Regions from separate parts of the Homo sapiens genome. Here region 1 is linked to region 2. The links come from fine-mapping of genetic effects on gene expression. A gene starts in region 2. The other region holds a variant in brackets. All regions are shown on one strand. Distances are from middle to middle.

What was found. PIP is the estimated chance that this variant, and not a neighbour inherited with it, causes the effect.
Region 1: its variant is fine-mapped to the expression of PYROXD1 in whole blood (INTERVAL, PIP 0.98).

Annotation. Positions count from the first base shown.
Region 1 is chr12:21,456,692-21,464,691 of GRCh38, forward strand. PYROXD1 (pyridine nucleotide-disulphide oxidoreductase domain 1) reads left to right here. Exons shown (of 12, transcript NM_024854.5): 8 at 4,334-4,463; 9 at 5,317-5,429; 10 at 6,049-6,171. Among named protein-coding and RNA genes, the nearest start is that of PYROXD1, 23 kb to the left of the region's middle. The variant G/A (reference allele first, on the strand shown) is at 3,645.
Region 2 is chr12:21,433,615-21,442,092 of GRCh38, forward strand. PYROXD1 (pyridine nucleotide-disulphide oxidoreductase domain 1) reads left to right here and starts at 4,041. Exons shown (of 12, transcript NM_024854.5): 1 at 4,041-4,200; 2 at 6,754-6,834. The coding sequence starts at 4,117. RefSeq lists enhancers at 3,870-3,949, 4,000-4,189.

The DNA.
Region 1 (8,000 bases), 23 kb after region 2:
ACAAGTTTGCCCCATCAATTGACTCTTCCTCTCGTGAAAGACTTCTCTGTAGCGTGCGAAGCTGTTTTATAGCATTTTGCCCAGAGTAGAAGTTCTTTCAAAAGTCAATTCTCTCAAACTCTGCTACTGCTTTACCAAGTATATGTAATATTTTAAATCCTTCATCATTTCAGCAATACTCACAGCATCCTCACCAGAAGTAAACTCCATCTCAGATAACTACGTTCTTTGCTCATCCATGAGAAACAACAACTCATCTTTTCAAATTTTATCATGAGATTGCAGCAATGTAGTCTCATCTTCAGGATTCATTTCTAATTACAGTTCTTTTGTTATTTCCACCATATCTGCCTTTCTCCATTGAAATCTTGAATCCCTCAAAGTCATCCATGAAGGTTGGAGTAAACTTCTTTCAAGCTTTTGTTAATGTTGATATTTTGACTTACTCCCTTGAATCATGAATGTTCTTAATAACATCTAGAATGGTGAATTCTTTCCAGAAGGTTTTCAATGTACTTTTCCCAGATCCATCAGATGCATCACTATCTGTGGCAGCTATAGCCTTATGAAATGCATTTCTTTAATAAGACTTGAAAGTAAGAATTACTCCTGGATCCATGGGCTGCAGAATGGATATTGTATTAGCAGGCATGAAAACAACATTCATCTCCTTGTGCATCTCTGTCTGAGTTCTTGGGTGACCAAATGCCTTGTCAATGAGTGTAGTATTTTGAAATGAATCTTTTTTTTTTTTTTTCTGAGCAGTAGGTCTCAATGGTGGGCTTCAAATATTCAGTAAACTATGTAAACAGATGTGCTGTGTATTACTCCATTCTCACAGTATATAAAGAAATACCTGAGAGTAGGTAATATTTATAAAGAAAAGAGGTTTAATTGGCTCATGGTCCCACGGGCTGTACAGGAAGCATGACTGGGGAGGCCTCAGGAAACTTTCAATCACGGGGGAAGGGGAATTATGCACTTCTTACATGGCCAGAGCAAGAGGAAGAGAGAGAAGGGGGCTGGTGCCACACACCTTTAAACAACCAGATCTCATGAGAACTCTAACATGAAAACAGCACTAAGGATGGTGCTAAACTATTAGAAACTGTCCCCATGATCCAGTCACCTCCCACCAGGCCGTACCTCCAACATTGGGGATTACAATTTGATATGAGATTTGGGTGGAGAACCAGGCCCAAACCATATAATGCTGTCATCCAGGCTTTGTTGTTCCATTTACAGAGGACAGGCAGGGTAGATGTAGTATAGTTCTTAAGGGCCCTAGAACTTTCACAGTGGTAAATAGGCATTGGCTTCAACTTCAAGTCACCAGTTACATTATCCCCTAACAGGAGAGTCTGCCTGTCCTTTGAAGCCAGGCATTGACTTCTCCTCTATAGTTGTGAAGGTCCTAGATAGCATCTTTTTCCACTGGAAGGCTGTTTCATGTACACTGAAAATCTACTGTTTAGTGTAGCCACATTCATCAGTTATCAATTGTATATTTTTGTTGTAGAGATGGCTTCTTTACTTAAACATCATGAACCAACCTCTACTAGCTTCAGCCTTTTCTTCTGCAGCTTCCTCACTTCTCTCAGCCTTTACAGAATTGAAAACAGTTAGGGGCTTACTCTGGGTTAGGCTTTGGCCTAAGGGAATGTTGTGGCTGATTTGATCTTCTCTCCACACCACTAAAACTTTCTCCATGTCAGCAAGAAGACTGTTTCGCTTTCTCATCATTCATGTGTTCATTGGAATACCACTTTAGATTTACTTCAAGAATGTTTCCTTTGCATTCACAATTTGGCCATCTGTTCAGGGCAAGAGGCCTGGCTTTCCATGTGCCTTCCTCAATAACCCTAATAATCATTGCTACCTTTTGATTTAAAGTGAGAGATGTGTGATCCTTACTTTCACTTGAACACTTAGAGGCCACTACAGAGTAACTGATTGCCCTGGTTTCAATATTCTTGTGTCTCCGGGAATAAGGAGGCCCAAGGAGAGGGAGAGACATAGGACAACAGCTGGTTGATGGAGCAGTCAGAACACAGAACATTTATCGATTAAGTTCACTGTGTTAGATGGGTGTGGTTCATGACACCCCAAGACAATTACAGTAGTACATCAAAGATTACTAATCACAGATCACCATAAAAGATCTAATAATGATGAAAACTGAAATATTGCAAGAATTACCAAAATGTGACAGAGACACAAAGTGAGCACATGCTATTGGAAAAATGGCACTGATAAGACTTGCTTGATGTGGGTTTGTCACAAACCTTCAATTTGTAAAAAACACACTATCTGCAAAACAGTAGTGAAGCACAATAAAATGTTGTGTCTGCAGTTTTCTGGCACACAACTCCTAAAATTTTTGGCATCTCCAAAGTGATGTGTCCTTTTGTATGCTAACGAGTTGACTGGTTAGCCCCTAGGTGGCTTCAGAATGGGGACTGGTCACAGGAAAGACCAAGACATGATTAGAGTTTAGACTTTCCAACCTACAGGAAGGGAAAGAGGTTGAAGGTTAAGCCAATCACTAGCAGCCAGTAATTTAATCAGTCACCTACATAACACAGTTTCCATGAAAACCCAAAAGGACTGGGTTTGGAGAGCTTCTGGATAGCTGAACATGTGGAAGTTGCTAGAGGGTGGTCTATCTGGAGAGGGCATAGAAGCTTCATGCCCCTTCTTATATGCTTTGCCTTATGTATTTCTTCATCTGTTTCTTCGTGACATCCTTGATAATAAACCAGTAAATGTAAGTAAAGTGTTTCCCCAAATTCTGTGAGATATTCTAATAAATTAATTGAACCTAAGAAAGGGGCTCGTGGGAGCCCCTTGATTTATGGTTGGTTAGTCAGACCAACTGGTAAAACACCCGGGGCATGCAATTGGTATTGGAAGTGGAAGACAGTCTTGTGAGATTGATCCCTCAACATGTGGGACCTGATGCTATCTCCAGGTAGATAATAACATCAGAACTGAATTGAATTAGAGGACAGCCAGATGGTGTCCTGTGCAGAATTAATTGCTTGCTTAGTGTGTAGAAAACACCCCACACACATTTGGTCACAGAAGTATTCTGTGTTGTGAGACTATAGTAGGAGAAACTGAGTTTGTTTTTTCCTATATCCTCAGATCAGGGATAGAGCTTTCTATACCCAGACTACAGTGAATACTCCTGTCCTATTTTAAATTAATCTTTTCTCAAAGGTCACTTCAGATGCATGCAGTAAACTTACAAAAGTTATTAGATGGATTGGAAATACACACTTAATACCCTAATTGGATAAGGAGATGATTTGCTTTTCCTCATTTTGTTAGATATTTTGATTTTTTAATAGTTGTTAAAGGGCTGTGAAATCTAAATGCTGTAAGAAGCATGCATGCAGTCCTTCGTTACTTTGTGTGATTTCTTTAGAGCATTGGTTTTTGGCTTTCAGTAGGTAGGAGGGGAGCTGGCTGCACGGTGTATCTAATTTTTGTGATGGAAATTACACAAAGTCCCTTCTTCTTGCACCTTCAGATCCTAATATTATATTTTTAACCTGAGAACTTCAACAGTTTAATTCAATAAGCATTTATTGAGTATTTACTACCTACGTGGGACTTTATTAATGTTCAGGGATACGACA[G/A]TAAGTCAGAACTGACCTGAAGAAAATTTTATAGTCCATAACTGTTGTCATTTTTTAAATTTTTATTTATTTATTTATTTATTTATTTTATTTATTTATTTTTTTTGAGACAGAGTCTCGCTCTGTCACCCAAGCTGGAGTGCTGTGGTATGATCTTGGCTCGCTGCAACCTCTGCCTCCCGGGTTCAAGCGAGTCTCCTGCCTCAGCCTCCCGAGTAGCTGGGACTACAGGCGCACACCACCAGGCCTGGCTAATTTTTTAATTTTAGTAGAGACAGGGTTTCACCATATAGGCCAGGCTAGTCTTGAACTCCTGACCTCAGGTGATCCACCTGCGCCTCGGCCTCCCAGAGTGCTGGGATTACAGGCGTGAGCCACTGTGCCCAACAACTACTGTAATTTTTAAAAAATGCATTTGTAATTATCAATGAGGCCTAGGCTAAAAAGCATTCCCTCGATGCTATCTGCTAATGCAGCTACCAGATCTCTTAAGTTACTGAATGAATTTTTGTTCACTCCTTTCATGTGCATAGAGAGACTTATTTTAGGGCACCCAATGTGGTTTCATTTATATTATAAGAATTATGTTTTCTATACATTTCTACAAGTATACGTTTTTTCTTCATCATTAGTAACCCGGGTTATTCTTTCTGTAAGTATTATGCTAACCAGTATTTTCTTAATTTTAGTTTTCTCATAAGATTCACCTTGAAACTATGTGTGAAGTAAAGAAAATCTACCTTCAGGATGAGTTTAGAATTTTGAAGAAAAAGTCCTTCACTTTTCCAAGAGACCATAAGTCAGTTACAGCTGATACAGGCAAGTAATGAAATAAGAAAAAATATATATAACCACTTAATTAAAAGGAAAACAATTTAATCCTGCTGTGTTCTATTAAAAATAACTTCGTATTTCCATATAAAATTTAAACATGAAAAGTAAAAATAAAACCATAATTTAATAACATTAACTCACTTCATTTCACTGTCTGTTGTTTTCTAGTAAATTAAATCGTATAGGGCATTACATCTTACATAGAGCTGAGTGTTTTGACCAACAATCAGAATATATTATAAATCAAAATAAGACAAAAACCTAGAGCTCTTAAAGGTGACATGATTTCACCCAAATCAGATTGAAAATGTATATTTTTGGGACTAAGATGCAGCTCTCCTAACTCCAGTTCCACAACTCCTCTGAGAATTGCCATGATTTGAAGAAATACACTCAGTTAACTAGCATATGAAATATTCTACTGTTCTGAATTCTTTGAATTTTTCCATAGGAAAGGGGAATTTGAATATGAGTAGTGAGGGAAGACACCTAGTTGAACTAAACACTTAAGTGGAGTGTAAAGTATTACAAAAGATTTTTAGAGAAATAATTTAGAAATAATTTAAATGTACTTTGTCAAAATTTATGTGTCCAAATTTGAAGGAAAAACATTTAAAATGCCATGGTTTTAAAATTATACCCAAACGAGATGATGCTAATTGCATTAAAATTGCTTTAGCAAATATGCCTCATAATAATTGCTAAGGAGTGTGTTACAAAGTTATCTCTTGCCTTTCTTTTTCTTTCTTTGTTTCTAGTCATTGTAGTCACATACACTGCTGTGGTGATGGTTCCATTTACAAATAAAGTCTGTTTTTTTGGTTTTTTTTTCTTAAAGAGATGTGGCCTGTCTATGTGGAATTGACCAATGAAAAGATATATGGCTGCGATTTCATTGTCAGTGCTACAGGAGTTACACCAAATGTAGAACCTTTTCTCCATGGTAACAGTGTAAGGTGAAATTTTTTTGTCCAGCTGTGAATATATTTGAAGTATTTTTGTGAAGATCTCTAATTCTCAAACATGAATAATTATTATTTTAGTGTACAACTGTAACTTAACATGGTTGGAAACAGTTTGGTTAAAACATTGTCTTGATTTACAGTATTTTTTACTGCTTAAAATCCTTACATAGTTATATCCTTGCATAAGCGTCATCAGTAATGGTTTATAATGTACAATTTATTTATCTAAATGTTGGTAAGAGACTGACACCTCCCGTGACTTCTCAAAAATGATTCTTTTAGAGAAACCATCTTGTATTTTTTGCTTTTCAGCACTTGAAGCTTACAAAAAAAAAAAAAGAATATTCTTGTAGTTATGGATAAGGTAGTCACATGGTTATTGGATACTTTTCATGTTGAAATTCTGACAGTTTTATGGATCAGTCTTAGTTGGAATTTGATCCATGGAAATTCAGCTCAGGTGTCTAAACTTTGCTGATATTTTTCATTTTCTCATTAAAGATGAGCATGCAAAGTGTAACAATTTAATTTGTTCTTTTACTTTAAAATGGAAAAAGTCGTTTCATTTTTCTTAACACTTAACGCTTATGAGGAATGTTGTTTAGTTTGATCTAGGAGAAGATGGTGGCCTGAAAGTGGATGATCATATGCACACATCCCTTCCTGATATCTATGCTGCCGGTGACATCTGTACTACATCCTGGCAGCTGAGCCCAGTCTGGCAGCAGGTAAGCTAGCATATATAATTATATGTTTTCATCAGAGATTCTGTCTGAAAATAAAGCGGTTGTTACCAACAAATCCAACTTCTGGTTTTCCAACTTTTCTGCTTAAGTAGGAAGCTAGCACAGTTGTTATATATATTTAAAAAAAAAACTAGAATATTTCCCTGTTTGGTAAGTTATCATTATAATGGTAGACTGAGACATCTTTTACTTTAAAAGAAATTATGGGCTATTACTTTGTTTTTCATTCTTACCTGCTTATCAGCACTGTCCAGGAGAACTTTCTGTGATGATGGAAATGTTTAATTCCTCACCATCTAGTCAGGTAGCCAGCAGTATGTCACATGAGCACTTGAAATGTGGTTAATGTGACTGAGGAACTGAATTATTTTTACTTACTTCTCATTAACTTTAAATATATGTGGCTACGATGTTGGACAGCACAACTTTAGATTAAAAAAACTACTAAGATTGTAAATTATATAGAAAAGCATTCTATTCCTTTATGATCCTATTCTGTCCCTGTGGTAATCATTACTAAAAAATGTTCTGGGCGCAGTGGCTCACGCCTGTAATCCCAGCACTTTGGGAGGGTGAGAGGCAGGTGTATCATCTGAAGTTAGGAGTTTGAGACCAGCCTGAACAACATGATGAAACCCCGTCTTTACTAAAAATACAAAAAATTAGCTGAGCATGATGGTGTGCGTCTGTAATCCCAGCTATTCAGGAGGCTGAGGCACAAGAATCCCTTGAACCTGGGAGGCGGAGGTTGCAGTGAGCTGAGATCGCACCACTGCACCCCAGCCTGGGCAACAAGAGCAAAACTCTGTCTCAAAAAAAAAAAAAAAAATTCCTGTAGTAAACACCTTTCCTGAGCCTTAACAAGTCCCAACTGGATCTAGACTTTTTCCTACCCTCACAGCTTTACCTACCTCCTCCTAACGGTGGAACAAAAATACTAGAGGAAGATAAAGACAGTGACCAGAGGTGTGCAGAGGGGTAGAGACCTAGGTAGATGTTTGAAATAAAGGAACCAGGCAACATTTATCTTTGTTAAAGACCAGCTCCACAGTTAGGGACATTATTCATTCAGATTATGCAGTGTGAAGTAGGAGAAGAGCTAAAAGTATTTCAAGAGGCAGCACCATCATTTTGTGTTCTTACAGACAGTAGAGACATCAGTAAGAATGGTTCCAGCCTTTTTGTTTCTAACCTGCCTCATTCTATGTCATTTCTGTGGCAAGACTATCACAAATTCTTAGAGTTGGAGTTTATGGGTTTTTTTTTTTTTAACATTTTTAATTCTCTAGGGTAAATTATATCTTAATGTGTTATAATCTGAAAGAGGGGAAAAAATCCGAAAATAAACAGATGGCCTTGTTTTGAGTGCACCTTATAGGCCCCATTTCTTGGCTTACACAAGCAATAAGGATACTAATTTATGCAGTTCAAGATGCAAATTTTCCGGCCACTTGTATTAGCTGTTCTCTAGTTGTTACTGTGCTCAGTTTATTCTGACCCCCAGCCATAAACTGCCTTTCACTTCATCAAATCTATAATACCTTGTTTACAGAGGAGATTGAAAAAAAAAAATCTATCACTTCTGCTAGAAATGCTTAAAACTCATGTCTATGATTATGATATTATTTCTGCAAACAAAAGACAGCATTAAGTACATATGCACATACAGGGAGGTAGAAGGAAACCAAGTGCTTATTATACGCTAACCTGTTTAATTCTCTCAATAGTTACAGAGTAGGTAGTGTTATGTTTACGTTTCAGGTAAATGAACCGAGGCCCAGAAAAGTTAAATATATATGTAGATCTGTTGA
Region 2 (8,478 bases):
CACAAATCCTAAAATTTTAACAATCAGCTCTCACAGATTCACAGTTGTACCACACCACTGATTCATAGATATAGGAAGACAGCCTGCGGTATGGCAAGAATGACACCACGGCCATGATGACTGATGTTGGATTCCTGCATACTAAGGTGTTCTGCAGCAAGGTCCTTAAACAATGCCCATAGCATAGATAACCCTTCAAAAGAAACAAAGCTTGTAACTTAGATAATTCTCTCATTAAGATTCTTATCTAGACTCCCCAGTGTTCATGAGTTTTGCAAGAAAGTCTGAGACATGATCAGCTGTACATCTTTTATCCTAAAAGCTTACATAATTTCTGGAGGGCAGGTGTGGGGATGCACTGTAACAGAATCATCATTTCTGTGTGTAAGTCCCTATTAAATACCTCTTTCTGAGAAACTGGATTTGTCAGTTTTTCTTTGGCCTCTCAGCTCTCTCAGCCTTTGGGGGTAGGTTTGCATATATATGCTCATACAGGAACAACAGTGAGGCTCTTTCCTCTCCTTACTCCTTACCCACCCTCCAATCTTAAAGCCCCTGAAAACATCAGCTCTTAGTTAGGAGAAGAGCTGGAGCAAAAAAGCAACAAGAAATCAATTTGCGTTGCCTGTAGTTAGGTGAGGCTTTAATTGGATGCGTGTCTGGAGTTTTGATAATAGGTAGTACCAGACTTTTTATTACCTGAGAATGATCAGATAAGCTAAATTAATAAGAATTTAGAGGAGAAAAATACATTCACAGGAAAAGCGTTGAGAAATAAAAATGTTTGCTTTAATTTCTTCCCTATAAAGTCCAGCTTGTTCAGTAAATCAGTTATATGAACTAACAAAACAAAGAAGAGGTTTCGAGTGCAAGATGAATCCAGGCTGTACTTACAGCGAATTGGCAAAAACCAAGATAAAAATGAGAAGATATCCAAGATGTTTCAGAAATTTCAGGCTTGAAGATTCAGAGTAGATTGCATGAGAGATAGACATTTGGGAGTTAAAAGCATAATAGGCTTGTTAAGGTTATGATCATAGATAAAATCCTTTAGACAGAGAAACATAGTCTATTCAACAGGGCACAGGCAGGCAACTTAACCATTAATCCTACTAAGAGGCACGCACTATGCTAGGAAGTTTAAATATGTTGCCTCACACATGCATCAAAACAACTCTACAAAGTAGATCTTATACCCGTCTTGCCAATGAGGAAACTAGGGTTCAGATGAGGTAAATAACTCACTGAATGGTCACACAACAAAGAAATGCTGGTGCCACATTTGAACCTAGGTCATCTGACTCAAAAGCTATTAATCACCAACTATGAAATGTCATTATTCATTCCCAATTTTTGCAGTTGAAAATTAACCTCAATACTCCTATTCTAGGCATTTCTGATATCAACTTGAAGAAGAATGGAAGACTAGATTTTGATGGTAGTTTGAAAGTTGGGGATGGCCTTCAAGAGATTAGGTGGGTATGGGAATCAGATGTAACAACATTATGGAGAGAAATAGAAGAAGATAGCTTTATCTCCTTCAGTTTTTCCACATGAATCTTGAACTCCCCAACCACTTTTCTTTCTTTCTTCCCTTTTACCATCTCCTGTATTTCCCATGCTCATTCCTGCTGCTAAGCCTTTGGTTCTTGGGATATTTCCCACATGACTTGCCACATCTTCTTCTGAACCTATCCAAATGCTATGGGCCTTTGAGATTCAATATAAATTCCACTTCTTCTCTGAACCTTTCTTTGCCAAGTCCTGCTTTTCTTTTCCACCCATAAACATACACCATAATATTTAGCAATACACTGGTATTTCTTTGACTCCTCAGAAACAGTCACCAGGTCACTCCTAAGCTTGCTGACCAGAGCTAAAGGGGAGCTGAAGTTCTGTCTTTTCTGCTTCTCTGCTGCTTCCTGGCATTGGGCCTCCCTTATTTCTAGGTGCCCAGTTTTCTTTGCAGTTGCCCTTTCTCCTAACCTGTACCTATTGCTGCCCTCCCTGTGGATAACATGTTTCAAGTTACCTACATCTTACTTTTAACCCACTTTACATCCAGTATATGTATCTAATTTAATCAACATTAAGGTGAGATGCACTGAAAGTTCTTTAACCCTTAGACATTTCTAAAAGTTGGATATTCATGCCAGTGTGGCAGGCAGCTAGGTCTTATCCCTACATCACCTTTGACAAAAAAGCCAGCCTTCACAAGGGGAAGAAAAAAGGAGAGTGTGGAGTCATTACCCCTTTACATTTGAGGAGCCTCCTACTACTTTGCTTCCCCTCCCACAGACGATGATCTCCTTCCGTTTCCCCTGGGAGCTTAAATTCCACTCCATTCTTCCTTCCGACTTCCATAAAGAGGAAACCCCTGTCACAATATACAAGAGGATCCTGACCCTGGACAATGAATCTAAAAATCTTTAGAAGGACTTCAGGGGAGTTTCATGCTCCACCAACTTCCTATTTCGTTGAGCACATTTTTGTTGAATACATACTCCCTACTAAACATTGGAGATACAAAGGGAGACAAAAATAATCCCTGAGATTATGTAAGCAGTTTATGGTGGTGGTGGGGTCAGGCAGTAAGAATTTACAATAAAGTGGGATAAGTCTAAATTTAGAGGATGACAAAGTGCTATAAGAACACACGGAGAGGACACCTAGCTGTCTTGAGGATGTTAGATAAAGTATCTTAAAGGGGAAGCAATGGCTTGATGAAACCAAAGGTTGATGAGTTAGCCAGGGAAAAGTAGTTGGGAAAAAGATATGTGCAAATGCTCAGAAAGAAAATGGCATATCCTGGGATCTGGAAGTGTAGTGTGGCCTGAATGGAACACAGTGTGAGTGAGATAATGTGAAAATAAGCTGAAGCAAGATGAGATCTAAATGGGCTTAAGGAATGTATTTCCTCCTCCTAGAAATGAATGCTTTGTTTGGTTGCTATACTAGTAACAGGAATTAGACACGTTTATTAAACCGCTTACCATTTAACTTGGTAAATCAAAGAACAATGATTTTTACAGGTATCAGTAAATGCCTGTAATTAGATACGTGGTAGGCTTTCCTGTTAATATATAATGGTTATTCTCAGTGTTTAAAGAATTAAAGGGACTCGGGTAATTACCAGTTTTAGAGTGAACCATTTGAGAGATAATACCTTACCATTACAAAACAACTCCTAGGGAAAGTTATATGAGACAGCAAAGGTAATAGTAAATAGTAAAATAATATGAATAGTGAATAATATAGTAAAAACAGTTAAAAATGATTTAGCAATTTCTTAAAAACAATTGACCACGAAAAAAATTCACAGTAAAACCGAGACTGGGAATATTTCATTCAACCCTCACACATGCTGCTATTGACTGGAAATTTAAGAAATGTTCATTTGTTTTGACAAAATGGAAAGCAACTGTACATTCTTCCTGGAAACTTTAGCTGAGGTCAAAGTTGTAAATGAAAAGGATGATTTTTTAGAGAACAATTCAGTAGTATTGTTTTGCCTTGTCATGAAGAATTTTTGTGCTTCCACAAACAAAAATCTTGGATTGTTAGGTGAACGGTGGCAATCAAGTGGTTTTCAGAAGACTCAAGTTTCTTCATCTACAAAAATGACAGGAGTGGGGTCAGGATGTTCCCGAAGGCTCCTTCTACTCATAAGAGCATAAAATCTGTGCCTCTAATTTCTCGCAGAAACAAATAATGAGAACTTCACACCAATTCATTTATTATATGAATGTTTTGTCCCGTGAGAACACTGGTCTATCTTTAGATATGTAATTTATCAAACTTCTTTGGGCAACCCATCTTCTTTACTTTTTTATTTTTAATTTTTTGGTTTTCTCTTTGTCAAATTTTCATGGAATAACTACATTCAGGTGTAGTAATAGTAACGCAAAGCTCTGAACACCACGAGACAATTCGTTGCTTCCGAAACGCAGCCGGCAGCAGGTACTCGAGATGAGTAGTGTGAGCTCCCGAGCACCCGTAGGTCGGATTATCTGGTAAGGCACCGGAAGTGACCGCCTCGCGGCTGCTTCCTCTCCTGGAGTCCAGAGTCCCGTTGCTCCGCCGCGATATTCAGTAAACCACTGGGAGTCCGGCAGCATGGAGGCAGCGCGCCCTCCCCCGACGGCAGGGAAGTTCGTGGTGGTCGGCGGCGGCATCGCGGGCGTCACTTGTGCGGAGCAGGTAGGGCGGTGCTCAGGCGGTTCCGCCTCTTTCCCCGACCCCAAAGGGGATAGCACTGGAGGCCTTCCTCCCACCCCCTCCCTTTTTCTTCTTCCGGGTTCCTTTTTTGCTGCGCCCTTTTCCGCACTTATTGCTCCCAGATTTTAGAAACTGCTTGGTGGTCCTCAGATGACCTCACTAGCTTTCTCTTAGGCGCAGGGAGGAGTGGGAGGCAAATTATAGCCGAGAAACCAAAGCTGGCTGATCCGTGCTCAGATCCTTGTAATGTCAGAGCAGACATGAGGACTTTGTATTTAGACAAAAAATTCAGCCCCCTTTCTTTTTATTTTTTTTTCTTTTTCTTTGAGACGGAGTCTCACTCTGTCGCCCAGACTGGAGGGCAGTGGTGCGATCTTGGCTTAATGCAAGCTTTGCCTCCCGGGTTCAAGCGATTCTTCTGTTGCGTCAGCCTGTAGCTGGGATTACAGGCGCCAGCCACCACGCCCCGCTAATGTTTGTATTTTTAGTAGAGACGGGCTTTCACCATGTTGGCCAGGCTGGTCTCGAACTCCTGGGCTCAAGCAGTCTGCCCGCTTCCGCCTACCGAAGTGCTGGCATTACAGGCCTGAGCCACAGCACCCGGCCCTCAGCCCCCTTTGTTAATTATCGTAGGTGATTGAGTTTAGTTTCCAGATAGTTGCCAAGTCTTTAGTGCATCTTAACTAATTAATAAAGAATCCCATATGTAAGTTTTCTATACTTCGAACTCCCAAGATAGAAGAAACTTTATTTCTAGTAAAGTTTTGTAAAATAATCAGCGAAGGATTAAATGCATGTAGGGCTTGCTTTCTTGATTATACTGAATAGCCAGACCATATATATTCAGATACATGTGTGTATTCCAAAAAGTTCTACATTATTTTGTTGATATAAAGTAAACATGAGCAATCACTGAAGTCATAAGAAATAGTGGAAGAAACTCAAGTGTTTCCATCGTTGGATGCGTATTTTCCGTTTATTCACTAAGTAAACATATATGATGCAGGCACCGTATTAAGGGCTGAGTGTTCAACTATGAACAGCATGGTATATACCATGCTGGGGACTCACAGCCTGCTGGAAGAGACAATATTACAATATTGTATGTCTATGCAAGAGATATCAACGGTTATCTTAGAGGTGCCTGTGGAGTATGTAGGGAGTGAATTAGGGAAGAGGAAATTTTTTTAATCAAAGAAGGTATTTTTAAAATCTCATTATGAAAGAATGAGTGAAAGTTTACCAAGTATTCAAGAAAAGAATGTCATCTCCAGTGGAAAAGCATGGATCATCAGGGAGCAGTAAAGCTTAAAGCATAGATCATAAGGAGTCTTAGCATGCTGAGAACTTAACAAGAATTTACAAGTAGTCAAATGTTTTTGAGCAGTGGAGTAACTTGATCATATGAAAAGGCTTGAAAGATGATTAGTTACAATGTATTTGTGGCAGAGGCAGCTGGTTTATACGTGAAACTGGAGAGCCAATTCGAAGGTGATTTCAGTAGTATAAAGAAGTTTTGAGGACCTCATCTAGCAATGGAAACAGCAGAGATATAAATTACAGAATATACAGAGGAAAGAAAGATGGAGAGAGTAATGATATTGTCAAATATAGAAAGTTCAAATAAAATGAGACTGAGAAGAATCGCATGGGTGTTGGGCACGATAGCTCACACTTGTAATCTTAGAACTTTGGGAGGCCAAGGTGGGAGGATTGCATGAGTCCAGGAGTTTGAAGCCAGACTGGGCAACATGGCAAGATCCCATCTCCATTAAAAAAAAAATAAATAATCCCTTGGATTTTAAGGATTCATAGATCCCTCAAACATGCTGTTTTAGTGATGGAGTAGGAATAGAAGCCAGATTATTGAGGGTGGTGGTGTCGAGGAACCAGACTTTGAGATAAGAAAATGCTTTCAGGTACAGAGTGAAGAAGACCGAGGTTGTAGCTAAAGGAAAATAATGAAACATTAACAAGTTATACCTCTAAATTTTGTGGAAGCAATTATTAAAATGGCTTTATCGTCCCACAATATGTACTGACTGGAAGAGGCAGAATAGGAGTGCCAGAGCACCTGGGGAAAGTTAGACCAATATTCTAAGTGTTTAATATTGAGGGTTTGCTTTAATTTCATCCCATTGAAGACAAATGAAATATTATTTTAAGATAAATAGAAGTTGGTTTAACTGGTAATTAGGAAGATAGTTTATTCTCATCCTCTGCATTATAACTCTAAATTGGTATAAAAAATAGTTGAAGTAAATAAAGGATATTTCTTTATATCACTTTTCTTGTTCAGGAGTTCTTTGTTAGTGTTTACTGTAAATATTATTTTCTCAGTATCAGAGTTTAATATTATTCACCATTGCCCCATCAAGACCAAGGATAATGGAGACCTTTAGATGAGGAACAGTGGGTTTTTAATTTTCTAGATTAATTACATTATTAAAATTGCATTATTCTCAACCCCAAACCATATATACCAGTACTTAAAGTAATTTGTCCTAATTTTTTTTCTCTCTTTTTAAAAATAAGTTGGCTACTCACTTTCCATCGGAAGATATTCTCTTGGTAACAGCTTCTCCTGTTATTAAAGCAGTTACAAATTTCAAGCAGGTAAGAACCTTTGTATAACTTGTTAATATTAATTTGAAAAAATTGCAATAACTTGCATAGCAGTTAGGGTAATTGTGTATTTTTTTCTTTCTTAAAAATTGACAAGTACAGTTATATGCTGTACAACATGATGTTTTGATACATGTATACATTGTGGAATGGCTAAGTCAAGCTATTTAAAATCTTTCCAATTTGGATGCCTTTTATTTCTTTCTGTCACCTAATTTAATTGCTCTAGCTAGGACTTTAGTACTGTGTTGAATAGAAGTTGTGAGAGTGGGCATCCTTGTGTTGTTCTTGATCTTGGAAAAGCTTTCAGCTTTTCTCCATTCAATATATTATTAGCTATAGGCTTGTATATGACCATTTTTTTGTTGTGGTACTTTCCTTCCATACCTAATTGTTGGGTTTTTATTATGAAAAGACGTTTAATTTTGTTGAATATTTTTTCTATATCTGTAGAGATGGTCATGATTTTTGTCCTTTGTTCTGTTAATGTGGTATATCACATTTACCGATTTGCATATTTTAAGCCATCTTTGCATCCCTGAATAAATCCCACTTGATTATGGTGAATTGATTGCTTTTTTTTGAGATGGAGTCTCACCCTGTTGCCCAGACTGGAGTGCAGTGGCACGATCTTGGCTCACTGCAAGCTCCGCCTCCTGGGTTCACGCCATTCTCCTGCCTCAGCCTCCCAAGTAGCTAGGACTACAGGCGCCCGCAACCATGCCCAGCTAATTTTTTGTATTTTTTAGTAGAGACGGGGTTTCACCATATTGGCCAGGCTGGTCTGGAACTCCTGACCTCGTGATCCATCCACCTCGGCCTCCCAAATTGCTGGGATTACAGGTGTGAGCCACCGCGCCCAGCCTGGAAAGTTTTCTGTTGTTATTTCTTTAAATACATGTTCTACTCCTTTGTCTTTCTTGTCTCCTTCTATAACGCCTATAATTCAAAGATTTGCTCATTTGATGCCATCCTTTAATTCCCTACTTCTATGTTCTTTTTCATTCTTTTTTCTTCTTCTTCCCTTCTGACTGTATATTTTCAAATAATCTGTCTTCAGATTCACAGATGTTTTCTTCTGTGTGATCAGTTCTCTTGTTGACATAGTCTGTTGCATTTTTTTTTGTTTCATTCATTGCATCTTTCATCGTCAGAATTTCTGCTTTAGTTTTTAAATAACTTTTTAAATTTTTTGTTTTGGTTGCTTATTGTTTTTCTGATTTAATTGAATTGTTTGTAACTTCTTGAAGTTCCTTCAGCTTCTTTAAACAATTATTTTGAATTCTTAGGCAGTTCTGACATTTGTGTTCTTTTGGTGGCATATCTTCTTGGTTTATCATGTTTCTTACTGCCTTATGTTGATGTTTGCACATTTGATGACACACTTGCTGTTTTCAGAAGTATGGGCTAGTTTTGCTGTGGAAAGACCTTCCCCTATGGGGAGGGCTGCTTGCTAGATGGGATGTAGCAGTTCTGGCACCAGTGAGGGTGCCCACTTTGTAGTCTGTGCAGCTCCGTCAGCTGAGTTAATTGTTGTTGAAGATTGCAGGGATCCTCAGCATCCAACTCTGGATGTCTGCAGTGGTAGTGAGGGTTGTTGGGGTTTTCAATGTCAATGGCTGCTAATAGCCTCCC